Linked DNA regions of Homo sapiens. The protein of the gene in region 4 interacts with the protein of the main gene of each other region in a pairwise test. Each region holds a gene or a part of one and is shown on either strand. Other genes may lie near its edges.

The links.
Region 1: the proteins of NDEL1 (region 4) and ZNF707 interact in binary tests that used the Homo sapiens proteins (3 or more experiments, as listed by UniProt).
Region 2: the proteins of NDEL1 (region 4) and MTUS2 interact in binary tests that used the Homo sapiens proteins (3 or more experiments, as listed by UniProt).
Region 3: the proteins of NDEL1 (region 4) and ZNF599 interact in binary tests that used the Homo sapiens proteins (3 or more experiments, as listed by UniProt).

Annotation. Positions count from the first base shown.
Region 1 is NC_000008.11:143,679,715-143,687,497, reverse strand, and holds the start of ZNF707 (zinc finger protein 707), read right to left. Parts: upstream 3,020-7,783; 5' UTR 2,956-3,019; intron 582-2,955; exon of another isoform or gene 484-581; intron 118-483; exon of another isoform or gene 20-117; intron 1-19. UniProt on the Homo sapiens protein: May be involved in transcriptional regulation.
Region 2 is NC_000013.11:28,823,339-28,830,363, reverse strand, and holds part of MTUS2 (microtubule-associated tumor suppressor candidate 2), read right to left. Parts: intron 1-7,025. UniProt on the Homo sapiens protein: Binds microtubules. Together with MAPRE1 may target the microtubule depolymerase KIF2C to the plus-end of microtubules. May regulate the dynamics of microtubules at their growing distal tip.
Region 3 is NC_000019.10:34,763,191-34,770,215, forward strand, and holds part of ZNF599 (zinc finger protein 599), read right to left. Parts: intron 6,366-7,025; coding exon 6,239-6,365; intron 4,222-6,238; coding exon 4,126-4,221; intron 1-4,125. UniProt on the Homo sapiens protein: May be involved in transcriptional regulation.
Region 4 is NC_000017.11:8,431,967-8,438,901, reverse strand, and holds the start of NDEL1 (nuclear distribution protein nudE-like 1), read right to left. Parts: upstream 3,019-6,935; 5' UTR 2,857-3,018; intron 1-2,856. UniProt on the Homo sapiens protein: Required for organization of the cellular microtubule array and microtubule anchoring at the centrosome. May regulate microtubule organization at least in part by targeting the microtubule severing protein KATNA1 to the centrosome.

The DNA.
Region 1 (7,783 bases), on a different chromosome or scaffold from region 4:
CAGGCATGGTGGCAGGCACCTGTCATCCCAGCTACTTGGGAAGCTGAGGCAGGAGAATCGCTTGAACCCGGGAGGTGGAAGTTGCTGTGAGCCAAGATCGCACCCCTGCAGTCCGGCCTGGGGAACAAGAGCAAAACTCCGTCTTAAAAACAAAAACAAAAACAAACAAACAAAAAACACAAACTGGAGGTAGAGGTTGTAGTGAGCCAAGATTGTGCCACTGCACTCCAGCCTGGGTGACACAGAGAGACCATCTTCACAACATTGGGGTAGACAAACATTTCTTTCATGGATCCCTAAAAGCACTTTTAAAAAATTACAAATTCAGGCCGGATGCAGTGGCTCACGCCTGTAATCCCAGCACTTTGGGAGGCCGAGGTGGGCGGATCACCTGAGGTACGGAGTTTGAGACCAGCCTGGCCAACATGGAGAAACCCCATCTCTACTAAAAATACAAAATTAGCCAGGCGTGGTGGCACTTGCCTGTCATCCCAGCTGCTCAGGAGGCTGGGGCAGGAGATTCACTTGAACCCAGGAGGCAGAAGTTGCGGCGAGCCGATATCGCGCCATTGCACTCCAGCCTGGGCAACAAAAGCAAAGCTCCGTCTCAAAAAAAAAAAAAAATCACAAATTGGATTTATCAGAATTAAAAATTTTTGTTTACCAAGGCAGTTAAGAAAAAAAAAAAAGGAGACGGGGTGCAGTGGCTCACGCCTGTAATCCCAGCACTTTGGGAGGCTAAGGCAGGGGGATTGCTTGAGGCCAGGAGTTTGAGACCAGCCTGGGCAACATAGGGAGACCTCTGTCTCTATTGTTTAAATTTTTTTTTCTAAAAAGAGACACAAAGGTAAGCCACAGACTAAGAGAAAATATTCCCAATACATGTATCTGACAAAGGACTTATATAAAGAATTGTAACTCCTACAAATCAATAAAAAAGAGAAATAAAATTTAAACTGGGCAAAATATTAGAACAGACACTTCAACCAAAGTTATACAACGGTCTATAAAAACATGAAAAGGCACACTGAGCACATGGGTCATGGGTGGTGTTTTCCAATTAGAACACCTTGCTGAGTTCCTCTAGCAAGTAGCAATGACCACAGTGATAAAAATAACAGCTCCCGGCCATTCGCGGTGGTTCACGCCTGTAATCCCAGCACTTGGGGAGGCCGAGGCAGGTGGATCACCTGAGGTCAGAAGTTCGAGACCAGCCTGGCCAACATGGTGAAACCCCATCTCTACTACAAATGCAAAAAATTAGCCAGGCTACTTGGGAGGCTGAAGCAGGAGAACTGCTTGAACCCGGGAGGCGGAGGTTGCAGTGAGCCGAGATTATGCCACTGCACTTCAGCCTGGGAGACAGAGCGAGACGATCTCAAAAAAAACAAAAACAAAAACAAAAAAAAAACACCCTCTCCCCTCAGCTCAACAGCTGTGTTTGCACAACCTGGACTGGGCTTCCCAGCCTGGAAAGCAGAGTCAGGGAGAACCGTGAGATAGGCCAGGAAAGGGGCTAAAGCCAGATTCCTCAAGGCCTCCTGAGCCGTGGTTTCATGTGTAATGCAACAAAGTTTAATACGGGAGAACAGAAGGATATTGTCATAGCTACTTTTTTTCCCCTAGGCAAATTAACACAGGATTTTTTTTTCTCTGAGGCAGGTCCTTGCTCTGTCACCCAGGCTGGAATGCAGTAGTGCAATCACAGCTCACTGCAGCCTCGACCTCCTGGGCTCAAGTGATCCTCCCACCTCAGTCTCCCCAGTAGCTGGGACCAAAAGCGCATGTGCCAACATGCCCTGCAATTGTTTTAAGTTTTTTGCAGAAACGGGGTCTCACTATGTTGCCAAGACTGATCTCAAACTCCTGGCCTCAAGAGATCCTCTGGCCTCAGCCTCCCCAAGTGCTGGGGTTACAGGCGTCAGCCACAGCATCCGGCCTAAGCTACCTTTTTTTTTTTTTTTTTTTTAATAAGATGATGTCTCGCTCTGTCGCCCAGGCTGGAGTGCAGTGGCGCGATCTCTGCTCACTGCAACCTCTGCCTCTTGGGTTCAAACGATTCTCTTGCCTCAGCCTCCCCAGAGTAACTGGGATTACAGGCGTGCACCACCACACCCGGCTAATTTTTGTATTTTTTGTAGAGACAAGGTTTCAACATGCTGACCAAGCTGGTCTAGAACTCCTGGACTCAAGTGATCCACCTGCCTCGGCCTCCCAAGAGCTGAGATTACAGGCGGGAGCCACCTTGCCTGGCTAAGCTACATTTTATAAAAGATCCTCTGTGATGAACAAATGAGAAAGCAGCAAAACAGGATGGGGGTGGGGAGAAGACAGGGAGGCGTTCAGGTGAGAGAGGAAGACGGCCAGGATTGGGACTTACAGGGTGGGAATGGCAAGGAGGCAAATGGTTCAGTTATGGAGCTAACGCACCAGTGACTGTGTGGCTGGGCGTGGGCAGGAAAGGAGAAGAAGCGAATCTCGGGTTTCTGCCTCCTCCCCTTCGCGGTGGAATGCCTGGGAGGACCAGAGGGTGGGGTGTGGAGGTTGCAGGAGCTCAGCCTGGGGCCGGGGAGCTTTGGGTGTTATGAATCAAGTCTAAGCGCTCGGGTCTCATCGGAGCGATAGGGCTGGAGACACAGGTGTGGAAAGTGTCTATGAGGGATAACTAAGGTCACGATCGCGGACGGGGTCGGCCAGGAAGAAACCAGCTTCAAGAGGATACGCAACCGGGTCCTGACAAACCTGCAAGTGTAAGGAGCGAGGAGAGAAGAGGAGGCCGAGCCGGAAGAAGCTGAAGAACAGCCCCCGAATAGCCGAGGGCACGGGCAGCCTCCCCGGTCTGTCCCAGCAGCCGCGACGCTGGGTCTCACAGCCCTGGGGCGGCCGCAGAATTAGAAGGTTTGACAGCCCACGACCCAGGGACGGAGGGGCGGCGGGGGACACGGGCGCACTCACCACAGGGGCGTCCTCCACTAGGATGCTGCATCCACTACGCCGCGCCGGTAGCCCAGACTTTTACAAACTTCCCGAGCGGAAGTTGTTATCCGAAAGCTTCCGGCCCCTCTAGGAGCCCACGTCTCGGTGGTGCGCGCTGGCCTTCCAGGCCGTCCAGGCCGCCCGCCTCGCCCCGCACCGCTTGTGGTTCCGCCGCAGCCGGCAGGCCCCGCCCCGGTCACAGCCAAGCGCCACGACGCCCGGCTGATTTTTTTGTAATTTTAGTAGAGACGGGGGTTTCATCATGTTGGTCAGGCTGGTTTTGAACTCCTGACCTCAGGTGATCCGCCTGACTTGGCCTCCCAAAGTGCTGGGGTTACAGGCGTGAACCACCGATCCCGGCCCTCATAACCTAAAGTCGGCCTAAAGGTTTATCCTACAAAGTGAACTGTAACCTAACTGGAGGTGTGAACAGACTGTCACTTGCTCTCCTGCCAGTCACCCAGTTCCAGCCAATCAAGGGTGTAGGGTCCAGCCCTGCGGGGCTAAGCGGGTGTTGTCCCCGTGTGCGGAGATGAGAGATTGTAATAAATAAAGACACAAGACAAAGAGATAAAGAGAAAACAGCTGGGCCCGGGCGACCACTACCATCAAGACGCAGAGACCGGTAGTGGCCCCAAACGGCTGGGCGCGCTGATATTTATTGCATACAAGACAAGGGGCCAGGGTAAGGAGGGTGAATCTTCTAAGTGATTGACAAGGTGAAGCAAGTCACATGATTACAGGACAGGGGGCCCTTCCCTCTTAGGTAGCGGAAGCAGAGAGAGAAGGCAGCATAAGTTAGCATTAATCAAAGACTTTAAGACTTTCACTATTTCTTCTACCGCTATCGACTACGAACTTCAAAGAGGAACCAGGAGTACAGGAGGAACACGAAAGTGGACAAGGAGCGTGAACATTGAAGCACCACAGGGAGGGGTTTAGGCCTCCGGATGACTGCGGCCAGGCCTGGGTAATATCCAACCTCCCACAAGAAGCTGGTGGAGCAGAGTGTTCCCTGACTCCTCCAAGGAAAGGAGACTCCCTTTCGCAGTCTACTAAGCAACGGGTGACTTCCCAGACACTGGCGTTAGGGCTTGACCAAGGAGCCCTCAAGCAGCCCTGATGTGGGAGTGACAGAAGGCTCACCTCTTGCCTTCTAGGTCACTTCTCACCATGTCCCTTCAGCACCCGACCCTATATCCGCCGGTTATTCCTAGGTTATATTAGTAATGCAACAAAGAGTAATGGTAAAAGCTAATGATTAATAATGTTTATAATAATGATTGATAATTGTTCATGGTCATCTCTATATCTAATTTGTATTATGACTATTCTTATTCTAACTATTTTCTTTATTATACTGAAACAGTTTGTGCCTTCAGTCTCTTGCCTAGGCACCTATGTAATACTCCACCCACACAAGGGTGGCCAACTGTTCAAACCTAGACACGCCTTTCTATAGATTCCAGGTCTTAGGTAATCACTTAACTTATTCAACCAATTGCCAATCAGAAAATCTTTGAATCCACCTATGACCTGAAAGCATCCAAAGTATAGCCAAGAAATATATTTAAAAGTAAAATAGGCCGGGCACGGTGGCTCCCGCCTGTAATCTCAGCACTTTGGGAGGCCGAGGCGGGTGGATCACGAGGTCAGGAGATCGAGACCATCCTGGCTAACATGGTGAAACCCGTCTCTACTAAAAATACAACAAATTAGCCGGGCATGGTGGCGGGCGCCTGTAGTCCCAGCTACTCGGGAGGCTGAGGCAGGAGAACGGTGTGAAACCCAGAGGCGGAGCTTGCAGTGAGCCGAGATCGCGCCACTCCATTCCAGCCTGGGCGACAGAGTGAGACTCCGTCTCAAAAAAAAAAAAAAAAAAAGAGTAAAATATTTTGATTTCCTTTATCTGTCATGTGACGTTATGCTAGAGTCAGGTTGGAAACTAAGCCAATTATATAGGGTTAAATAAAACCTATCTGATGACATTTTATGGTTTGTAGGGCAGACTCCCCAGGCCCTTTAGATAAGAACTTGAGCAAGAGAGAAAAAGATCAGTTTAGTCCTCACTAGTAAAGGAGTGATAGCGACAGGAGGCAGGCAGCCAAATGCCCAGCCAAATGGGGGCAGGTCCCCAGTGAAACCTCCACCTCGACGCTGAAAACAGCTTAAAGCCTGAAAGCCAAGCTGCAAGTCGAATCCTCAGACCGGATTGAGAGCCTGTCTTCCTGTCTGGCGCACTTTCCTCTGATTGGTCCCACCCTTCACCTATTTTACATATACCTACCCTTTTCTAATTGGCTTTCTACACTGTCATGCCCACCTTTCAGTGGTGCCTTTGCTTTAACCTTTTTTGCATTACTCACAAACCAATCAGCACGCCCTCCCCATTCTGAGTCCATAACATGGGGAACTTTCCTGCCTTCATGTAGGGGGACCACGCCATGTCCCCTCTCCACTGAAAGCTGCCCCGTCACCCAGTGAAATTCCCCGCCTTGCTCACTCTTCGATTGTCAGAGCCTCCTCATTCTTCTTGGCCGTGGACAAGCATTCGGGAACTCGGGGGAGTTGACGGGCTGTCTCCTGCAGCAGGTAGTGTGTCAAGCGAGGCCCTGGCGGGGCGTCGCTGGCCGGAGGTCCCTGGCTTGCAGAATGACTGAGAACAACATCCTATGTCAATAGGAATGTCTTCAAAATTGTTAGTTACATATAATTTAATACTTGTTGATTTGCTGTTACTTATGTTTTTGGTTTTGAGCCTCTGGAATCGGGGCTGGACAGGTGGCCATGGTGAGGTCTGGGGACAAGTTCTCAGTGCCTCGACCAGCAGCTCCCAAGCAGAATCCAGCCCCATGTGGTCCCCTTTCGCCAGTTTTGCCTCCTGGCTATTCTGGGAGAGGTTGGATCCTCCAGGCATTGCCTTCACAGCTCTGTCTTCTGTCCTGAGCTCTAACCTAGGATGTAACTTCGGGCCTCAGACAGCCTTGACAGCCTCCCTGGGTGCCACATGGCTACTTGAGACCCAGCAGGCCTGGGAAAGACTGTAGGGAGGGCACCTGTGTCATAGCTTCATGCAGGGAGCCGAAGGCCCGTGGGACGTGACCAACTCAGCATTCCGCTGGAGGCTCTATGATCAAACAGCAAACTGTTTACCATGAATGCAGGATGTGGGTGAACTCACACTGCCCTGCCACCAAAAGGTTTGCTGAGGGCCTCGCTCCCTGGCTCTGGGCTCCTTGAAGTTATCTATTGAGAAATACTCTATTGTCCAAAGGATGCAGCCTGTTCAAGGCCGACTGACAATTACCCGACAATCACCCCCCTTTTCTCACTATCTCTTTTGCCTAATAGATACGGAGGGCTGTGTAAAGCTCAGGGCCCTTGTCCACTAGAGGCAAGGTGCCCCCTGACGCCCTCTTCCAAATATACTCTTTTGTCTCTTGTCTTTATTCCCGAGTTCGCCCCCTTTGTTCAGTCCCCTTAGGTCCGTGCAGGTTACAAGTGGCGCCCCGATCAGCGATAGAATCGGGTGCTCAACACTTTCAAAACTGTTTTTTTTTTTCGGATGGAGTCTGACTCTGTTGCTCAGGCTGGAGTGCAGTGGTGCAATCTCGGCTCACTGCAAGCTCCACCTCCTGGGTTCAAGTGATTCTCCAGCCTCAGCCTCCCGAGTAGCTGGGACTACAGGGGCCCGCCACCATGCCCAGCTAATTTTTTGTATGTTTTGTAGAGACAGGGTTTCACCATGTTGGCTAAGCTGGTCTCGAACCCCTGACCTCAGTTGATCTGCCTGCCTTGGTCTCCCAAAGTGCTGGGATTACAGACGTGAGCCACTGTGCCCGGCCAAGACCCCATCTCTTAAAACATTGGGAAGAAAAAAATCTATAATATTATAAAAGCTGTATGGGCCAGGTGCGGTGGCTCATGCCTATAATCCCAGCACTTTGGGAGGCCGAGGCGGGCAGATCATAGGTCAGGAGTTCGAGGCCAGTCTGGCCAACAGGGTGAAACTCCATCTCTACTAAAAATACAAAAAATAGCCGGGCGTGGTGGTGCGTGCCTATAGTCCCAGCTACTCAGGAGGCTGAGGCAGAAGAATTGCTTGAACCCAGGAGGCAGAGGTTGCCGTGAGCTTGTAGCAGGACAAGATGCAGACAAAACTCTCAGACACCAAGTCAAAGAAGGAAGGAGTTTATTTGGCCGAGAGCATTGGCAAGACTCCTGTCTCAAGAGCCGAGCTCCCTGAGTGAGCAATTCCTGTCCCTTTTAAGAGCTCACAACTCTAAGGGGGTCCGCGTGAGAGGGTCGTGATCAATTGAGCAAGCAGGGGGTACGTGACTGGGGGCTGCATGCACTGGTAATCAGAACGGAACAGAACGGGACAGGGATTTTTACAATGTCTGGAATCTATAGGTAACACAACCGGTTAGGTCAGGGGTCAGTCTTTAACTACCAGGCCCAGGGTGCGGCGCCGGGCTGTCTACCTGTAGATTTCATTTCTGCCTTTTAGCTTTTACTTCTTCTTTCTTTGGAGGCAGAAATTGGGCATAAGAGGATATGAGGGGCAGTCTCCTCCCTTATTCCCCCTCTTTGAGACTCTCACTCATTTTATTAGTGGGAGTTCTCACCTTCTTCCTCACTAGCTATGTCTTCCTGCATGACAGAGCGATAGTGATTCATGAAGTACACTTGTGCTGAAGCATTCTTTTTTTTTTTTTTTTTTTTTTTTTTTTTGAGACGGAGTCTTGCTCTGTCGCCCAGGCTGGAGTGCAGGGGCGCGATCTCGGCTCACTGCAAGCTCCGCCTC
Region 2 (7,025 bases), on a different chromosome or scaffold from region 4:
ACATTTATAATAGCTAATTTAAAATGTTTGTCTACTAAGTCCAGTATCTGGACTTTCTCAGGGATACTTTTGTTTTTCCTGTTATGGCCCATATGCTACTGCTTGTGTGTGTGGAAATTTTATGTTGAAAACTGGATTTAAAAAAATATGGCAACCTAGAAATAAGATTCCACTCTGCATAAAGGTTTGTTGTTATATTTGTTGCTACTATTGTTTCTATTGCTATTTCCCAGACTAATTATGTAAAGTCTACTTTGTTTATCATGTGCAGCTGCTGAAGTCTAGCTTCAGTGGTCAGCTAATGACGGTACAGAGATTTCTGTCTTTGCTGAGGGATTACGCGTGTTGGGGGGTGGGGTACATGCTTTTAACACTCCAGCAGGTAGTTTACAACTCTTAGTCTTCTCTTCCTACTTTACTTATGCAAAGCCTCATTGTTAGTCTGAGATGACAGATTAAGGCCTTATTAAGTATTTCCTGGACATACAGACATGGGACTTCTAGATTCCAAAGACTACATCAAAGGTTTTTAAAGCCCCCATAGGTAGCTCCTTTTCCAATTTTTCCTTTTAAGTTTTTTGGTTAACCTCTTGTTAACCCCAACTGGTGTCACTGCCTCAGGCAGCTGAGAGGTTAAACAATTACTGCTGATTGTTTTCCAAAAATGCCACAGGGCTCTGCAAAACAAGCTTTGAGAATGGAGTTTTTTAAGAAGCTTCTAGAGCAATCATATAGTGACAATTTTCTGAGACTGGGGATCTTAGAGGGCTCTAAACCTGTTTTGTCCCTTTCAGTGGCTTCTAGGCTATTAGTTATTGTTTGTTTTTTTTTTTAGACGGAGTCCTACTCTGTCATTCAGGCTGGAGTTCAGTGGCGCAATCTCAGCTCACTGCAACCTCCACCTCCCGGGTTCAAGCGATTCTCCTGCCTCAGCCTCCCAAGTAGCTGAGATTACATACACACACCACCATGCCTGGCTAATTTTTTTTTTTGTACTTTTAGGAGAGACAGCATTTCACCTTGTTGGCCAGGCTGGTCTCAAACTCCTGACCTCAGGTGACCCACCTGTCTCAGCCTCTCTAAGTGCTAGGATTACAGGTGTGAGCCACTGTGCCTGACTTAGGCTATTAGTTTTGAAGGCTACAATGGAGCTGCGGATGAAGGAATGGGAATAAGGTAAGTTTAAAAATGACAAAGTTCACTGTTCTTACTGAGATTCAGTCCTTTTTCTTGAATAAATATTCCTCAGATTGTTATAAACCCTTCGTTAATTTCCACCATTCTAAAATGGTTTATTTTGATATTTTTGCCAGTGCTTTCATTGTTATTGTGCAGGAGAGACTTTTCAGAATGTCTTTACTCCAATAATTCAGATGTGTTCCAAGATAAATAATATATTAATGCAATATTTTTAGGAAATCAAAATTAATGTAAAAAATCCATGATGAACGAAATATTAAAACTTTATAGATAGGATCAGTAACAGTGCTATTACAAACCAAACTGGAGCCTGACACAAAAGGAAAACTCAGTAATACTGATCCTGTCTTCCTTTAAAATTTTGATATTTTGTTCATTATGGATTTTTTGCATTAATCTTGATTTTCTAAAATGCATAAAATATTTATTTGTATTACTAAGTGTCTTGGTGTCCCTTAAATTTTGTACCTGAGGCAAGTGCTCAACTAGCCTCTCTCTACTGCTGACCCTGGAGTGTTGCAGGAAGTCAGGGACCCCGAACGGAGGGACCGGCTGAAGCCATGGCAGAAGAACATAAATTGTAAAGATTTCATGGACATTTATTAGTTCCCCAAATTAATAATTTTATAATTTCTTACACCTGTCTTTACTGCAATCTCTGAAGATAAATTGTGAAGATTTCATGGCCATTTATCACTTCCCCAATCAATGCTCTTGTGATTTCCTATGCCTGTCTTTACTTTAATTGCTTAATCCTGTCATCTTCATAAGCTGAGGATGAATGTCACCTCAGGACCCTGTGATGATTGTGTTAACTGCACAAATTGTTTAAACAATATGAAATCTGGGTACCTTGAAAAAAGAACAGGATAACAGCAATGTTGAGGGAACAAGGGAGATAACCTTAAAGTCTGGCTGCCTGTGGGCTTGGCAGAACAGAGCCATATTTCTCTTCTTTCAAGAGCAAATAGGAGAAATATCGCTGAATTCTTTTTCTCAGCAAGGAACACCCCTGAGAAAGAGAATGCATTCCCAAGGGGAGGTCTCTGAAATGGCCACTTTGGGAACGTCTGTCTTTTACGGTTGTGGATAAGCGGTGAAATAAGCCCCAGTCTCCCGTAGCGCTCCCAGGCTTATTAAGACGAGGAAATTCCCGCCTAATAAATTTTGGTCAGACTAGTTGTCTGCTCTCAAACCCTGTCTCCTGATAAGATGTTATCAATGACAATGCATGCCCAAAACTTCATTAGCGATTTTAATTTCACCCCGGTCCTGTGATCTCACCCTGCCTCCATTTGCCATGTGATATTTTATTACCTTGTGAAGCATGTGATCTCTGTGACCCACACACTATTCGTACACTCCCTCCCCTTTTGAAAATCACTAATAAAAACTTGCTGGTTTTGCGGCTTGAGGGGCATCACGGAACCTGCCAACATGTGATGTCTCCCCCAGACACCCAGCTCTAAAATTTCTCTCTTTTGTACTATTTCCCTTTATTTCTCAGACCGGCCAATACTTAGGGAAAATAGAAAAGGACCCACGTCAAATATTGGGGGCTGAATTTCCCCCGATACTGAAGAAATGTGGCTGCAGGTCACATTCCTGCTTTTATTGTTATTCTCTAAACTGAGATATTAATGCTAACTCACATTTATATTTTATTCCAATATCCTGGGCCATTATCAAAATTATAATCCTAAAATTTAGCAGAAAAATTTCAGTATAAAGTTTGGGGGTAGAGGACAATGTATTTATATTAAAATAACTTCAAAATCTGCTAGTAGTGGCAAATTAGCTCACTCAATATAAAACTAATTACTACCTGCCAGTTAAACTAATACAATGTGGATTTAAAAAAAAAGAATACTTGCTAGAGTCTTCAGAAAACTAAACCTAATGTTTGGCATGTTCACTGTACAAACTTCCAATGATACCATGTAACACTAATGGAAAATGCATCAGGCTTAGAAACATCAATTTCAACCAAAATTATTCTGCTACATGATTTCAATTCTCAAATTAACTTTCCCTGAAATAAACTGATAGTAATATAAGAATTAGAAGCAAAAAAATGTGTTTGGCTTAATATGTGGCAACATTTCCAACCTGAGAACACAATTATTTGTGTGTAGAAAAATACTGCCTGTCTTGAGAAGCTATTTTCAATGAGTAATGTCAAACAGCTTAGCACAAAGATAATTAATTCAGGATGATTTGAGATTACTTCTCCCGTATTTACAGAGCTAGTGTTCATATTAAATTTTTAGACTAGTACTCTGCAGTAGCAATCTGATGAAGTGTGGAAAATAAACTTCCCTATTAAGTGTTATTTGCTTCTGCTGTTTTATTATCATTTATTGTAATCCAAGGCTATATATTCCTGGCTTTCTCTATTGTACTTTTGGGGAAAAGCACTTAAAATCAGTGTATCAATATCAGCCTGTTTCTGGACAAATGTATTTGCCTTATTACAGTCTTCATAGACGCTAATGCATTATGTTGGCTTTTCATTTCTGCAAGGTGAGTCAAACTTTCTAAAGTCAGTATCAGGCCATCATCAATACTGGTTTGGCCCTAATCACACACACTGCTGGCTTATCTATAATGACTGTGTGTAAACACTCTTTTGTTTTTCTATGGGAACTGAACATACTGGTACAATGGGTCTACAGTAAACAGAGTAAAAAGACTAATAAGGAGAGGACCTCAGAGATCATATAGCCTATCCTCTCTGGGACAAGGGAAGTACATTTGGCTGAAATACAATAATCTTGTTTTTAAAATCTCTCAACAGATAAACAGTCTCGTCTTCTATCTAGTCTGATAATAAAAAATAGAAATAAAGAGACCAAAGTAATCATTTTTTATCTATTCATTCATCTAACCATGTATTTTAAATTTATTGATTTATTTACTTATTTAGCAGATGATATGACCATCTATCTGGAAAATCCAAGGAAAATAACCACAAAACAAGGTTATAATTAATAAGAGCTTGAAAAGTGCTTGGTTACATTACATTTTAGAATAGCTTTCTATATATCAATTATTGGTTATATGTAATACAACCAACATATAGAATATATACAACCAATTAGAAGAAGGCCCACTTACAAAAGCTAAAGAGGAGTATCAAATACCCAGGAATGACCTTAAGTTCCCCATTTTCCAAATACAATAGGGCACGTGAGAGAAGCTTGCAAAGTAAGAGACCACATGAAGTCATGACAGGCACAGAGAAGAGTCAGGAACACCAGACTCCTATAAATGCCACCTCCCCAATGCCAGCTGCATATGCTCACTCAAGCTGCTGTGATGCTCCCTACCCACCAGCAAACAATCCAAGGAACCTCTATATGAGAGATTTGTGTTTTGGTTGTTGAGAGTTTAAAATGGTTACAAGCTAACAGCTTAAAAAATGAAACAGCTATCCCATCCTGGTTCCATACCCCTGTCCCCATGAGTATAGAAAGGCTGTAACTAAAAACCAGCAGACAGGCCCTGGCTGCTGCTCCCCAATGGTTTCTTCACCTTCTCCATGGAGAAATTCATGACAGCCTGTTGCCAGGGGTGTGTGTGTGTGTGTTGTTCTGGTTAGCAGATGTTGAGCAGCCATCTGGGCATGCAGGAGCCTCGGTCAATGACTGAGTAATTTCCCCTCCTCAAACCCTAACCAACCCCAGTTCCCTTTAAGCTGGGGATTCTCTCTAGGCTCAGTTCAAATCAGAAAGTTGTTCTAGGTTCCTGATATTAAGACATTCCTCGAGAAAGAGCCGTGTGGTTTCCACTGTCCACATCTTTTATACATCATAGTTCCATTTGTTCCCAGGGTGACTGCAGGGAATCCAGGCTGGAGTGAGCTTGCCCCCAGCCTCTTTCCTATGACAAACCAGTGGGAGCCATCATTGAAAACATACACTCTCATTCCTTACTCCTATTCAGGTATGGTCTAGGCTGGATTCCGATGCCCTGAGAGGTCCTCAGTTCCAAGCCACCATACCACTAAGGCCCCAAGAACAACACCAGTGTTCGTGGGCAGCCTCAGGTGGCTGGAGTGGGGGATGGGGCTGCTGTCATGAGGAAAAGCTGGCCATGAGCATGAGATTCCCCCACTGCGGCCTGCAGCTGCCTCCCTGTGCTCCCCACAAATGCCAGCTGCACTCTGGTCAGGTGGCTCACTCTTCCATCTCCTTTAGGGCTCTGCTCAACATCTCCTTTCAGTGAGGCATTCCCTGACCACACTACTTGAAATAGCAATTCCCCATAACCCACTCCTGCTCCCCCATCTCTGATTTATTTTCTCCATAGCAGTATCCATACCTGATATATTAAGTACTTAACCTCATCTGATTCATTCCATTACACTGTAAGTTCCTCAAGGATGCAGTTTTTGTCTGTTTTATTTGCTGCTCTATACCTAATATGTAAAAGTGCCTGGCCTATGGAGACACTCAAACTTTTTTGTTGGATGGTGTTTAAAAAAAAAAAAAAAAGCTAGACACTGGTTAAAGGCAGTAAAGACAGATTTTACCCAGTACAACTGCAGTGAGAGAAAGAGACTTCAGTATAGAACTGAGCTCAACTCCAATTCAGGTAGAGGTGACTGGGTGTTTTAAAGGGAGAATAAGGAAGTAGGGAGGAGAAATGAGAATGTGTGGGGGCTCAAGCAGGGTCAAGGACACAGAACATTACAGCAATCAGGCAAGGGGGCTTGCCAATGAGACTAGGCCATCTGTGACTGCTAAATGGCACTTGTCAAAGTTAGGCTCCTACCCATCTACAGAGACTAGAGGACAGAGCCCTATCCTCCCTGATGATTACACTTCAAAGGAATGGCTCACAGACACTGAGGAAGACACTCCAGGTGGTAGGAGATACACATATATCTCAAAGGCACAGAGAAAGAATTACAATTGTAAGTTTTTAATAAACGATCTAACAAAATGAAAGTCAGGGGCCTATTATCATTTGTGTGGGCTAGAACAAAAGATAAATTCTTTGGGGCAGCCTTGAGCTTTTCTAGGTAGGAATGCAAGTGAGGCTGGGTGATCCCAGACACATGGCCTTAGGCTGCTAGATGCCATGTTATATGGTTTGGCTGTGTCCCCACCCAAATGTCATCATGAATTATAATTCCCATAATCCCCATGTGTCATGAGAGGGACTAGGTGGGAGGTAATTTAATCATGGGGGAACTACCCTCATGTTGTTCTCGCGACAGTAAGTTCTCATGAAATCTGCTGGTTTTATACGGTGTTTTTCCCCCTTTTGCTCATTTTTCTCTCCTGCTGCCATGTGAAGAAGGACGTGTTTGCTTCCCCTTCCACCGTGATTCTATGTTTCCTGAGGCCTCCCCAGCCATGCTGAACTATATGAGTCAATTAAACCTCTTTCCTTTATATATTACCCAGTCTTGGGTATGTCTTTATCAGCAAGGTGAGAACAGGCTAATACACCATGCTACAGTGTTTTCAAATCCGTTGGAGGGTGGGAGCACAGACAAAATTGTTTGTGTTGAAAGCTGCAGTTCTTACGGGCCAAGGTTGAGGCCCAGTTGAGAAGAGGGCTCAGGGGAGCCTGACTAAAGTTTGGTCAAAAAGAGAGTCTCTGTGGATGGGTGGGTGGATGGTAGATAGATGACTGATGGATGGGTAATTGATAGACAAGGTATACCCGTTGGTGGGAAGGGTCAAGATGATAAGATCTAAAGGCATCCAAATTCACATAGGAAGTAGAAATCATTTCAGAGAAAAGGGGAAACTCCTTGACTCTTTTCAACAACTCGTTTCAAACATGTGTGTGGTAGATATTATAAGCCTCCC
Region 3 (7,025 bases), on a different chromosome or scaffold from region 4:
AAGGTTTGTAGGTGTTCATTACAATCTTTTTAAAGGAGGATGAATAAATATATTAATAAAATGCAATGAAAGAAAATAAAACAAAAAACCAGGACACGCATTGACTAATGATGACAATGTGTCATAAATCATTATTTATAATTTTTCTAATTCTGCACACCTAGGGACAATTATGAAAGTCAGAGGGGGGCCAGGCATGGTGGCTCATGCCTGTAATCCCAGCACTTTGGAAGGCCAAGACAGGCGGATCACTGAAGGTCGGGAGTTCAAGACCAGCCTGGCCAACATGGTAAACTTCTTGTAAGAAGTGAAGGCACTGAGGGAAGGCCATGTGAGCACAAAGTGAGAAGGCGGCCATCTGCAAGCTGAGAAGACAGCCCTTATCAGAACCCAACAATGCTGGTACCCTGACCTTAGACTTGCGGCCTCTAGACCTGAGAGAAAACACATTTCTGCTATATAAGCCACGCAGTCTATAGTATTTTATTACAGCAGCCAGAGCAGACTAACACACTTTTCTAAGATTCACTTTCCTCATCTGAAAAACTGGGATACTCTCAGTTCCTGCCTACAAGTTGTTAGGAGAAAAAGCATACAAAATATTGATTTGTGGCTGGGTGTGGGGGCTCACACCTGTAATCCCAGCACTTTGGGAGGCTGAGGCAGGAAGATCACTTGAGGCCAGGAGTTACCAGCCTGGCCAACACAGCAAAACCCTATCTCTACTAAAAATACAAAAAATTCAGCCAGGTGTGGTGGTGCATGCCTGTAATTCCAGTTACTCAGGAGGCTGAGGCACGAGAATCACTTGAACCCAGGAGGCAGAGGCTGCAGTGAGCCGAGATTGTGCCACTGCACACTAGCCTAGGCGACAGAGTGAGATCCTGTCTCAAAAAAAACCCAAAAACCAAACAAAAGTTCATTCGTGTGACAAAGAATAAATGTTTGGTAAACTGTAGACCACTGTCTATTATCATTATAGTTGAATTTAGCAATCAGGATGGCAACAGTGACCTGGGCAAGAACACTTTAAGTGCTGTGGTGCTGAGAAACACCACTACCAGGCATCAAAGAGTAAAGGGAAAGACACCAACTGCTCAGGCGTACATGGAACAATGAAGACTCTCATACGTGGCTAGTGGAAATGTGAAATGGTGTAGTTACTCTGAAACTGGTGGTTTCGATTAAAGCTAATCATATGCCCACACTTGATCTGGCCAGTCCACTTGTATGTATATTCCCAACAGAAATATGGGTTTATATCCAACAAAAAATACAATCAAGAATATTCATAAGAGTAGTCTTCATAATATTCCAAAAATGGAGACCAAGTCAAATGTCCATCAATAGGAAAATGGGTATATGTAGTCTATTCATTCAATGATGGTAATGAACTAACTCCAACTATATGCAACCACATGAATGAATCTGAGTCATAAAGATTATCAAAAGAAGTCAGGACAGAGTATGTACTAGGGGGTTCTATTTATATGCCTTCAAAACTAATGTATGGTGATATAGAGTATAAACACTGACTACTTTTATAGAAGGGGATACTGACAAAGAATGAGCACAAGGAGCCTGTTAAGTGCTGAAAACACTGTATTTCTTGAACTGTGAGATGGTTTCTCTGACTTGTACATATATAAAACTTTATAGAAATGAAACTTTATGATTTGTACACTTATTATGTATAAATTGCACCTCAGTACAAAAATAAGGGAAAAAATAAATAAAGGAAAGTCTTGTGTAGATGTCTCTTCAAAGAATGAGAAGACTTCTCCAACAAGCTTGGCTGTTCAGGTGAAATAGAGTCAACAATATGTAGATGCTGCTGGAGACGTAAGAGCACTAAAAAAAAAAAAGTCTCCCCCAGGTATCAGAAACATCATCATTTTTTTTTAATGTTGAGTAGAGAGGGGATGAAAATATAGAAGAGGTAGGAAGTAAGTGAAGAAGCATGTTCCCTGATGCAGCTGAGAGATTCACGTATGGCTTCTCATGATCCCCAAGTCATAGTGTTCACACCCTTTTGTAGTTCCCCTGTTAAAATGTTGGCAGGACCTCGATTTGCTTCTAAAGTATAGAATATGGCAAAGATGATGGAATGTACATGATAAAATATATGTAATTTTATAAGACTGGAACATCCGTCTTGCTGGAGTCTCACACAGTGGCTTGATTTGAAGAAGTGAGCTGATGGTGATGATGAGCTATGAGCTGCCTATGACACGCCTGAGAGGACCCAGCTAAGCTGTGCCTGGACTCCCAATCCATAGGTGGGAGATAATAAATAAGTGATGTTTTCAGCTGCAGGGTTTGTGGTAATATTGTTACATATTAATAGTAGATGGCTAATACACCTGAGAAGGCAGAAAGTGTAATCTAGATTCTGCTGGAGAAATTAGCCATGGCCAGGATGATAACTCTTCCACAGAAGTGAGAAGGAAGCTGCAGGATAAGTCAGATGAACATGAATCAGTAAGTGTCAAAAAGCAAGAAAATCAAGTGTGTAGGCTTTATTCATAAAGTAGGTCAGATGCTCTGACATCAGTGGCAAGGGAGGCGGTGATACATGGAACATGTGAGTGGATGCAGATATAACACACAGGGCTGACCAGATGCACAGAGCACATGGGGGAAAACAGCGAGGAATCTGGTAGCATTATGCAGGCAAGAGATGATCACTTGGCCTAGAGTACTAATGCTGGAGCTGATGGAAACTAGTGAAGGTGAGGATTCAGGAGACATGAGTGATGTGAAATGGTCAAGATTCGGGGATGGCTGGATATTGGGTATGAGGGAGATGGAGGTGTTGAGGGGTTGTCCACGTTTGTTTTTAGCCTTCTCCACTCATTGAAAGAGGCATTAGCTGAAAATGGGGGTGATCATGAGGTCCTTTTAGGCATGATGAGTGTGAGGTGCCTCTGAGACATTCAAGTGAAGATGTGGAATAGGGGAGAGGGGTGAAGGCTGACTGAGCAGGCAAGAAGGACACTAGAGGGGTGAGATGGTGAATCTACAGTGTCACAAATCCACCTGCTTGATGGCTCCAGCTTCCTCTGGCAGCCCAGATGTGGGACTGACAAAGGCAATCATCACCTTGAGGTTTTTAGAAGACAGGAGGGCCAGAAAACAACAGGGCTAGGGAGTGCTTCTGCGTATCTGATACATAAATGAAAAGATGAATGGATGGATCAATAAATGACGGGCTGGAGAAGGTGAAAAATGGTGGGATGCAGAGTGTAGTTTGAAATAGTAATCTGCAGGAAAAGAAAGGACTGTCTTCTGAATGCAGAAGAATGTCTGAGCTATCACTATTCCTTATGACTAACACTACATTAATATTACTTACAAGTAACTTCTGTTGAGCCACTCCGGGTCAGGCAGTGTGCTAGGCAGTTTCCTGCTATGTGATCACATTCCCAAACAACCCAGTCATGCAGAAACTATCATCACTATCTTTCAAATGTAGGCTAAGTGTATCAGATAAGTATATGTTCACTATACCCATAGGCTCTTCTCCTTGGGTATAAAAAAGCTAAACCACATTTCCCAGCCTGATACAACATGTAGCCTAATACCCAGTTCTTGTGGATGAAATGTTAATGGAAGTGACTACTGCCCTTCTCTCCCATTCCTCTTGGCCGGGGCAACCTTAAAGCTGCATATTGACAACAGAATGCATGTGATCCATAAATAAATACAGGGTACACAGCTTTCCTGCTGACCCACATTGGGCTATGGCATGGATAAAAAAACAAAACAAAACGAAACTTAATCTGTTGAGTCACATGATTTTGGAGTTTATTTTTCAGAGAAGGTCATTAACTCAGCCTAACTTATATACCAAAGGCACAGTGACGTCACACAACCTCTCCAGAGTCATGAGGCTAGTGAGTGGCAAATCATTAAAGCCTAGAATCTGTCTCCTACCTAACATATTCCAACCTGAATAAAGGCAAAGAGTGTGTGACAGAAGTGGGAAGACGGGGGACCATGGGGTCAAGGGCTCCATGACTGCTCAAGACCACAAAATAGCTGCCCATGGCATTTCAGACACAGTGATGCCTGGGTGGTCTGCAGGCTGCCCTGATACCCGCTGCCAGACTCTCAGTCACCAACCTGCGCAGGTGCTTTGGGAGAGGCCTCTCTTCACTGTCCACAGTTCCTGTCCATGTTCCAGTAGATAGATCAGCTCTGGTTTGGGAACAGGATGCCCTGTGCATGGAGAAACAAATGGAGTATGGTGTACAGGGAAAGACAAAAAGAAAAGTCTGAGGTGTAAAGGAGTACATATATTTAACATACTGCAATGAAACCCCAGAAAGGGCCCTCCCCTGCCTCACCAAAAGTATTCCCTAATTAACCTAAGTCAGTAGGATTCAACCACCCTGTGCATCAAAACTACCTAGCAACACCCAGTTCCAAAAACAGAACAAATTAAACCAAATCTCTGAGCAGAAGGACTGAGTGCTGGTAGTTTTTAAAGCTCCCCAGGTGATTTTGGTGCCCATGATGGTTGAAAAACACAGGACTAAATCGCCTGATGAATGGCATCTATTGATAGTCAGTTGTGTGAGGCAGGCCAGTGACTGAAGCTGAACATGGAGGCCTACTGCCCCACAAGGATACTGGCCAGGGCCCTAGACCAAGGAGAGAAAGCAGACAGAGAACTGGGTTAGCATGGATTGGCACTGACCAAGCCAGGAGTCAGCAGCACCTCAGGGCTTCTCATTAGGTAAAGTAAGAAATTATTTTCAGGGTGAAACTGGCAGGAGGTGGTCTTCTTCCACATGCAGCCACACACATTTTGCCAACTGTGAAGGCTAAGACAGAAGACTCTGGAGAGAAGTCAATGACTGAGGCACCAGGACCCAGAAGCATCAACTGGAAAATCTTGTCCTGGCACGCATCCAGCTGTCACTTAGCAAATGTTCACCATAGGATTACGCACACTTACATGCCACATGCACACTCAGCAAATGTTCTGCCATATGCTTGGCACTGAGCTGGGTGATGAGCAGCATTAAAGGGGAATCAGGCCTGCCTTCATCTCTGTTAAGGAATCAAGCACCCTGCTCCCACAGGGATGCTGCTCATGTTGGTCCCTCCTCCTGGAATGCTGTTCCCCATACATCTCCTTTCGACAACTAATCACAGTTGTCATAAAATAACACCACGTTTACTTCATTAATGACTCATCCCTCGTGAGGACGCAGGACTGGGAGAGCCCTGTCGATGGTAACCATTTGAACAACTGGAATAAGTGAGACTTTGGGCCTCCATTCATATCTACTCAGACCAACTTCTGGGCAAACTGTCCATTAAAGGTTTAGGTGGGAGAGCATTTGGTATTTATTAATTTGTTAAATGTAACAAACACATGCAGAACACTTGCTATGTTTCCAGCTCTATTCTAAGCACTTTACACATATTAGTTACCTTGCTGTGACAGGTTACTATAAAAATGGCAAAATCAAAATGATAACAGGTCCCAGCAAGTTCCTGCTGCCTGCTTGAGGCTAGGAGTTTGAGGCTACTCTTTCTACTGAGGAGGAAATTCACCAACAGCTATGGGAGTGTTAAAGATTCAGCCCTAAGCCAACACTCAACATTCAAGAGACAGGAAAGAGAAAAGAAAAAAAGAACAGCTTTCTCAGATAGCATACATCCATGCCATTTGAGAATGTGTCTGTGCTCCCTTTCCATAATCATAATCATCTCCTGTAGCAGCAGAGGAGCAAGGCACAGGCCTTAGGAAGTAAGGGTTAACTGTGCAGGTGCTAGGAGCCAAAGAGACCTTTCAGCTGAGACTGTGTTGCTGAAAAAGATATAAGCAGCACTGATAACAAACACCTTCTTAGTGTCTGTGTCAATCACCCGCTGCTTGTAGAACCTCCCATTATCCACAGGTCCTGCTAACTGGGCTGTGAGGACATTTGACTCAACCAAGCTGGGCCAATTACCTCTTGTGGCAGTCTGGGATAAAGATGTCAGACTGAGGCCAGCTGTGCTAGACAGTGGGATAAAAGTGTTGAGGAGGACTGTGTTTCTTACATAACAATCTTTGATTGAGACACAGGGAAACCCAGCAAGAGGAGGTCAGACCACAACGTGCTGAGGCTGCAGGGATCAGGGAAGGTTGGGTTCTGAGGCTCCTGGACCAGCCATGCCTAGAAAGGGTGGATTCAAAGAGGCTGTGGGTCCCCTACATGGGAGGGTAATGAGGTCTTACCCAGTGAGACCAGGAGCCTGCAGGTCTCCAGCATCACCTCCTGGTACAGGGTCCTCTGGGCCAGGTCCAGGTGCCCCCATTCCTCTCCAGTGAAGGTCACAACCACGTCTTCAAATGATACTAATGCCTGGGAAGTCAAACAGAGGTGACAGGTGGCTGTGGAGCTATTAGGTGAAATTACAGCTCACTTCTTGGTTACTGGCAAAGGGTCCAGAGACCCTGAACCACTGAGCAACTCCTGAGAACCACTGGGCTCTGTGGAGGCAGATGGTGCCGCTGACAGAATACAAAGATGTGGGACAGAAAAGCCTCCTATGTTGGAAACCATTGGAAAATGATACAAGACAATGATAATCCCATCTGACTGTGAGGAGCAGACAGTAATGTCCTAGGACATTACAAGAATGGGGAAAAATAATAATTCAAACAATAATCACAGCAGCAGCAGCTGAGCCTCACTGGTCTGCACTGTTTGCCTGCACCTGAGGGCTTCACATGCTGTGTTCAAGCAACTAAAAGTCTCCAGGTCTGGAATCAGGCTCCTGAAGTTTAAATCCAGCCTCTTGAACCAACCTGCCAGATGTGTGACCTTGGAGAAGTCTCTTAATTTCTTGGAGCTCCAATTTCCACATCAATACATTAATAGTTCCCACTTCACCGAACTGTTGTGAAAATTAATGAGAAAATGTTCATAAAGCAAACACTGCAGTGCCCAGCATGTGTTACAATGTGTGTAAATTTCAATAGTCATCCTATAGCCCATGATGTAAATGTCATCATCTCCATT
Region 4 (6,935 bases):
ATCTTTATTGCTTCCTAACTGGTATTATCCAGCTCTATTGCCCTACTTTTACCCATCAGATTTACTCTTTTTAAAAATCAGATTCTGGCCAGGCACAGTGGCTCGCGCATATTAATCCCAGCACTTGGAAGGCTGAGGTGGGAATGTCAGTTGAGCCTGGAACTTCAAGGCCAGCCTGGACAACATGCTGAAACCCCATCTCTAACAAAAATACAAAAATGAGCTGGGTGTGGTGGCATGCACCTGTGGTCCCAGCTACTCGTGAGACTGTGGTGGGAGGATCGCTTGAGTCCAGGAAGTTGAGGCTGCAGTAAGCTGTAATCACTCCACTGCACTCCAGCCTGGGTGACAAAATGAGACCCTGCCTCCAAAAAAATAAAAATAAAAATCAGATTATTTACAAATAATAAAATTTGCTACCACTGCAGATACTCAAACGACAGTTTCAGGGGCTGTTATACAGTCTGTTCAGTTTGCTTCAAGTTACACTGGGAGGATGTGTTCACTTATTTCAAACTATGTAACTGGAGATATTCAGGCTATAGAAAGTTAGCTAATATAGAAAACATACTGCTAAAACAATGCTCTAATGGTACATCCACAATTTTCTGAAGCTAGAATGAAGATAGATAATTATGTATTATTGGCAGGGCACGGTGGCTCACGCCTGTAATCCCAGCACTTTGTGAGGCTGAGGCAGGCGGATCACGAGGTGAGGAGTTCGAGACCAGCCTGACCAACATGGTGAAACCCTGTCTCTACTAAATATACAAAAATTAGCAGGGCATCGTGGTGCGCACCTGTAATCCCAGCTACTCAGGAGGCTGAGGCAGGAGAATCGCTTGAATCCAGGAGGTGGAGGTTGCAGTGAGCCGAGATTGTGCCACTGCACTCCAGCCTGGGCAACAGAGGGAGACTCCATCAAAGAAAAAAAAAATTATTATTCTCTGCCCGCCCCCACCCCATCTTTCTTTAATACCAGATCTCAATACGGACACAGTCTCAAAAGCATGACAATTTTTACGTAAAGCATTATCATACTGTGTATGACCTTCAGAAATCTAGCAACAATCAACTCATTTGAGTTTAAAACAGCCTGTCCAAAATGCCTTTTATTTACAAGGAAATTATTCTTTGTACAATGGTAAGAAAATCTATTTTCAATGATATTGTTTCTGGTTAACAGTTCTAAAATGGACTGACGTTAGAAGAGTTCTTTCAGAACTCACTGTTGGCAATATATGCCTTTTTACTGAAATTCTACTACTCTCAAAGGTGACATTTACAGAATTTTTAACTCTTCAAAGTTGATCATAAACACGGTCTCTCTTTGATTCTATCAGACTTCTTTTTTACTTTATGGAGTGCTCAGAAACTTACGTCAGAAGTAATTTTAAGCTTTAGTAACCAAATTTATCCCAGCATGGTTTAAAATGAAAACAAAAATAAGTTGTTTTGCAGATGTCATGAAAGCAAGATCTAAGTTTTACTAAGGTTCCTACTTATTTTAAGCTCTTTATCCAACTTCAATTTATTTAATTTAAAAAAATCAAAAGAACTACAGCTTCAGAAGATTTAGCAACTTCTATCTGGATCAAGTCAACCTCTAACCAGGGCTGGCCAAAGGTTTTGTTTCTCACGCACTCTAATTTTAAATAACAATAATTTTAATAATAATTCAGAAGAAATACTTCACTTGGTTTCCCTTTACTTCTCTTCAGCCCATGACTTAACGCTGCACTGTGCCCATCAACTTCACGATTTAGCAAAGCAATTAACCAGCAACTCCTGAACAAGCTTCACAGGAAGATTTTTCTCATGACTGAGCAGCCGTTTTTATCCTAGGTGAGTTTTCTCAAAAATAATTGAGTAAGTAATCTACCAGCTTCTGGCATATCTTTGGCAAGTCACATTTTCTGCCTTGTTTTGTAGCTGAGAAGGGTATAAAAATCCCACGAAAAGAAACCAGAACTCCGAGCCTAGAAATGTAAATTATGATCCAAGCTAAACCACTCACCAGTTGGTTGAACCTAAGTATAAATAATTACCCCCATCCCAGCTCCATTTACCCATCGAAATGGCGATAACATAATCAGTTGCAACCACAAGGTGATGCGGTTAGAAAAAGATAGGAAGAAGAGTGCTCTGAAACGTGTAAAGGTGCTACGTAAATAGAAGGTAATAATCAGTGGTGACAGAACTCTCACCTCCTTTGCAAAACTTAAAGGGTCATCTCATGGCTTACAGCAAGAAAAGAGTCGAGCACAAGTAACCCGAGCCCGTTGGTGACACTTTGCCGAACTCCAGGGGGAGGATGATTAGCAGTTCCGGGCGGGAGTCAGGAGAATGCCAATCCGAGCCCAACGTGGGCTGCTCGCGCTCTCGCCCCCCATGGGAGAGAGGCACTGAGAGATCAAAATGCAACCCCGCTCCAAGCCACCCTCGCAAATGAAGGAATTTCGAAGAGGGGGTAGGAGGAGGCGGGCTGGGCGCGCCGCTGCCACCTCCGACTGGGCCACTCCTTGCGCCGCCAGCGCCCCAGCCCACGGTGCCACGTCCCGGCCTCCGTCACCGCCAGCCCTCACCCTACCCGGAACGGGGCACATCTTCCGGAGGCCACCGGAATCGTTCCCTTGCAGGCGCCCCTGGGGGGCCACACATCGGACCAGGGAAGGGAGGGGACAGTTAGAGCGGTTGGAACAGTTGCCCCCAGGCTGGCCGCCCCGGAACCCGGCCCGGCCCGCCCCGGCGGAGCCTCAGACACGGCCCCGGGCCGGGAAGGCTCCCCAAGGGCAGGCCTCGGCGCCGCCGGCCCAGCGCAGCCCCTTAGGGAGCGGCCCCGCGCTGCAGGCTCACCTCCAATGTGTCAAAAGCGCATGTTCGCCGCCGCTCAACCGACGTCTCCCCTCCGCCGGCCCGGCCAGGCCCGCCCAGCCGCTCGGCTCAGCTCCCCTACGCAGCCCCGAGCTCCACTCAGCGTACCTCCGCGCCCGGCTCCTCCCCGACACGTCAGGGACTGCCTGGGTGTCCGAGGCCATTCTGTGACGCACGGGGGCGGGGCTCGGAGCATGCGCGGCAGCGCACGGGTATGCGGGGCGGGGTGGGGCGGGGCTGGTGTCACAGGGGGCGGGCCAGAGCCCGGCGCGCTGACGCCAAGCTGACGGCGTCCTCTTGCGCAGGCGTCCTCTTGCGCAGGCGCTCCTGGACTCTGCGACCGGCTGGTTTTGGCTTGTGCAGTTCCCTGAAACTGCTATTCGGGAGAGTGGTGCCAAGACGGATGGGAACCTGCCTTCAGTTTTCTGGCCACCAAGGCCCTTCAAGTGTCCATGTGTCTGTGTTCCCGTTTATAAAATGAATCTCGGCTCATAGTTCACCTCCGAGTCCATTCCCCCTGCTCGAACACCCAATGGAACATCAGGAGCATTCTAAGCATCACTCTCACAAAGCTCTGTGTTGTTTTTACAGAACTTCCACTGTTTACATTTTGTATTTGTTCTCATCTTCCTCCAGTAGAATTCTAAGTTCTATGAGAGCTAGAACCTCTTATGCCTTGCTCATCCCAACAGATAACTTGGTTCTAGGCAAAGTGGACGCTCAAATATTTGATGAATGAATGAATGGATTCGTTGGCACAAAGGGGATTTTATATTTGCCCATTTATATATTGTATATATCTGAGCATATATTCATTTTTGTATACATGCGTGTACGTGTGTGTATGGGTGTGACTTTCTCCCCTCCAGGTCCCCCAAGAAATGGAGTCCTATGTGTATATATATACCTCTTACAATCCATCTTGGTTTTTGTTTGTTTGTTTGTTTGTTTGTTTTTGAGACGGAGTTTCGCTCTTGTTGCCCAGGCTGGAGTGCAGTGGCGCGATCTCGGCTCACTGCAACCTCCGCCTCCCAGGTTTAAGCAATTCTCCTGCCTCAGCCTCCCTAGTAGCTGGGATTACAGGCGCCTGCCACCACGCCCGACTAATTTTTGTATTTTTAGTAGAGACGGGGTTTCACCATGTTGGCCAGGCTGGTCTCGAACTCCTGACCTCGTGATCCGCCCGCCTCGGCCTCCCAAAGTGCTGGGATTACAGGCGTGAGACACAGCGCCCGGCCCCATCTTGCATTATTAATGTTTATATATTTTTAGTACGTAAACACACACGTGTATGTGTGTGTGCGCGCGTGTGTATTCCCTAGCGGACTTGGAAGCAAGCTGGAGACGATACTAGCCCAAAAAGGAGGGAAAGAGGGATAGGCAACTTACATAGGGAGTGGAAACTTAAAGGAAGAGATACATTTTAAAAACAATTTTAAGAACTTTTGCTGTATAATGTACAAGGTAATCCTTTCCTTTAGGAGATGGGGTCTACTGTGTTGCCCAGGCTGGTCAAGAACTCCTGACTTCGGCCAGGCGCTGCAGCACTTTGGGAAGCCGAGGCGGGCAAATCACCTGAGGCCAGGACTTCGAGACCAGCCTGGCCAACATGGTGAAACCCTGTCTCTACTAAAAGTACAAAAATTAGCCAGGCATGATGGTGGGCACCTGTAATCCTAGCTACTCCGGAGGCTGAGGCAGGAGAATCGCTCGAACCCGGGAGGCGGAGGTTGCAGTGAGCACCACTGCACTCTAACCTGGGCGACAGAGTGAGACTCCGTCTAAAAACAAACAAAACAAAACAAAAAAGAACTCCTGACTTCAGGCAATCTTCCCACCTCAGCCCCCCACAAAGTCCTGGGATTACAGGCACCAGCCTCCATGCGGCACGCAATGTAATCCTTTCCAATTTCAGTGCTTTTAGGATTGGATTTGTGGGTGTGAACACAAAAATAATGTGTAAGACATGCCTCAAGGTGAAAACAAAGTGAGCCTAGGAGGCCCAGTTTATATTTTTGAGGGCGATGGACATAAACAGGAACAATGCAAGATGGATTGTAAGAGGTACCCAAATCAATAAAGATCAGAGAAGGGATTAATGGGGTTTGTGGGAAAGGTAACATATTACATATGCCTATTATGAATAATATTATGAATAATATGCATATTATGAAAAAACTATGCATGGATTTCCAATTTTTTTTTTGCACAGGGCCAAGCATGGTGGCCCATACCTGTAATCCCAGCACTCTGGGAAGCTGAGGTAGACAGATCACTTGAGCCCAGAAGTTCGAGACCAGCCTGGGCAGCACAGTGAGACACCTGTCTCTAAAAAAATAAAATAAATGTTTGCACCAAAATAAATTTGTTCTAACTTGCTATAACATGTCTGAACAGGATCTAGCTTGAAGCACCAAGAAAGATAAGAAATCAGTTTGAAGAGAGTCCCTATCAGAACACATATTCTACAAAATTGAAGCAATACAAAATACTAAATTTATGGTGAAGCCTGGGTGGAAAAATGGTGGAATCATTGACGCTTTATAAAAGTGTAAAAGGACAAAGCCCCAAAAGAAGTCAGCAGTTTACAAATGGATAATTCATTTTAAGAAGAAACATGATGATGTTGAAGATGAAGCCCACAGCAGCAGACCCTCCACATCAATTTGTGAGGAAAAAAAGTAATCTTGTTCATGTGCTAATTGAAAAGGATCAATGATTAACAGCAGAAACAATAGCCAGCACCACAGATATCTCAACAGATTTGGCCTACACAATCCTTACTGAAAAATTAAAGTTGAGCTAACTTTCCACCCAATGGGTGGCAAAACCATTGTGCCCAGGTCAGCTGCTGACAAGAACAGAGCTTTCAAAATTTCACACATTTTAAACAAGTGGGATCAAGATCCTGAAGCTTTTTTTTTTTTTGAAGAATTGTAACCAAGAATGAAACTTCGCTTTACCAGTACAATCCTGAAGACAAAGCGGTGGCTACCAAGAGATGGAAGTAGTCCAGTCAAAGCAAAGTGAACCAGTCAAGAGCAAAAATCATGGCAACCATTTTGTGGGTTGTTCTAGGCATTTTGCTTTCTGGAGGGCTAAAGAATAATAACGTACTTATTACGAGAGTGTTTTGAGAAGATTAGCCAAAGCTTTAGTGGAAAAATGCCCAGGAAACCTTCATCAGAGAGACCTTTCCACCATGATAAAGTTCCTGCTCATTTCTCTCATCAAACAAGGGCAATTTTGCAAGAGTTTCAGTGGAAAATCAGTAGACATCACCTTACAGTCCCAATTTGGCTCCCTCTGAAGACTTTTTGTTTCCTAATCTTAAAAAATCTTTAGGCCAGGCGCAGTGGCTCATGCCTGTAATCCCAGCACTTTGGGAAGCCGAGGCAGGCGGATCACGAGGTCAGGAGATCGAGACCATCCTGGCTAACACGGTGAAAACCCGTCTCTACTAAAAATCCAAAAAATTAGCTGGGTGTAGTGGTGGACGCCTGTAGTCCCAGCTACTTGGGAGGCTGAGGCAGGAGAATGGCATGAACCCGGGAGGCGGAGCTTGCAGTGAGCCGAGATCGCGCCACTACACTCCAGCCTGGGCAACAGAGCGAGACTCTGTCTCAAAAAATATATATATATTGGCCTGCCATTAAATATATATATATTTATATTTATATTTATATATAATATATATATTTATATATAAATATATATATATATCTCTTTAAAGGGTAGCCATTTTTCTTCAGTTAATAATGTAAAAAAGACTGCATTAACATGCTTAAAATCCCCAGATCCTCAATTCTTTAGGGATGTACTAAATAAATGGCTGATATCATGGTTACGAAAGTATCCTGACCTTGGCTGGGCACAGTGGCTCACACCTGTAATCTCAGCACTTTGGGAGACCTGGGGCGGGTAGATCACTTGAGGCCAGGAGTCCAAGACTAGCCTGGCCAACATGGTGAAACCCCGTCTCTACTAAAAATATAGAAAAATTAGCTGAATGTGATGGCATGTGCCTGTAATCCCAGCTACTCAGGTGGGTGAAGCTTGAG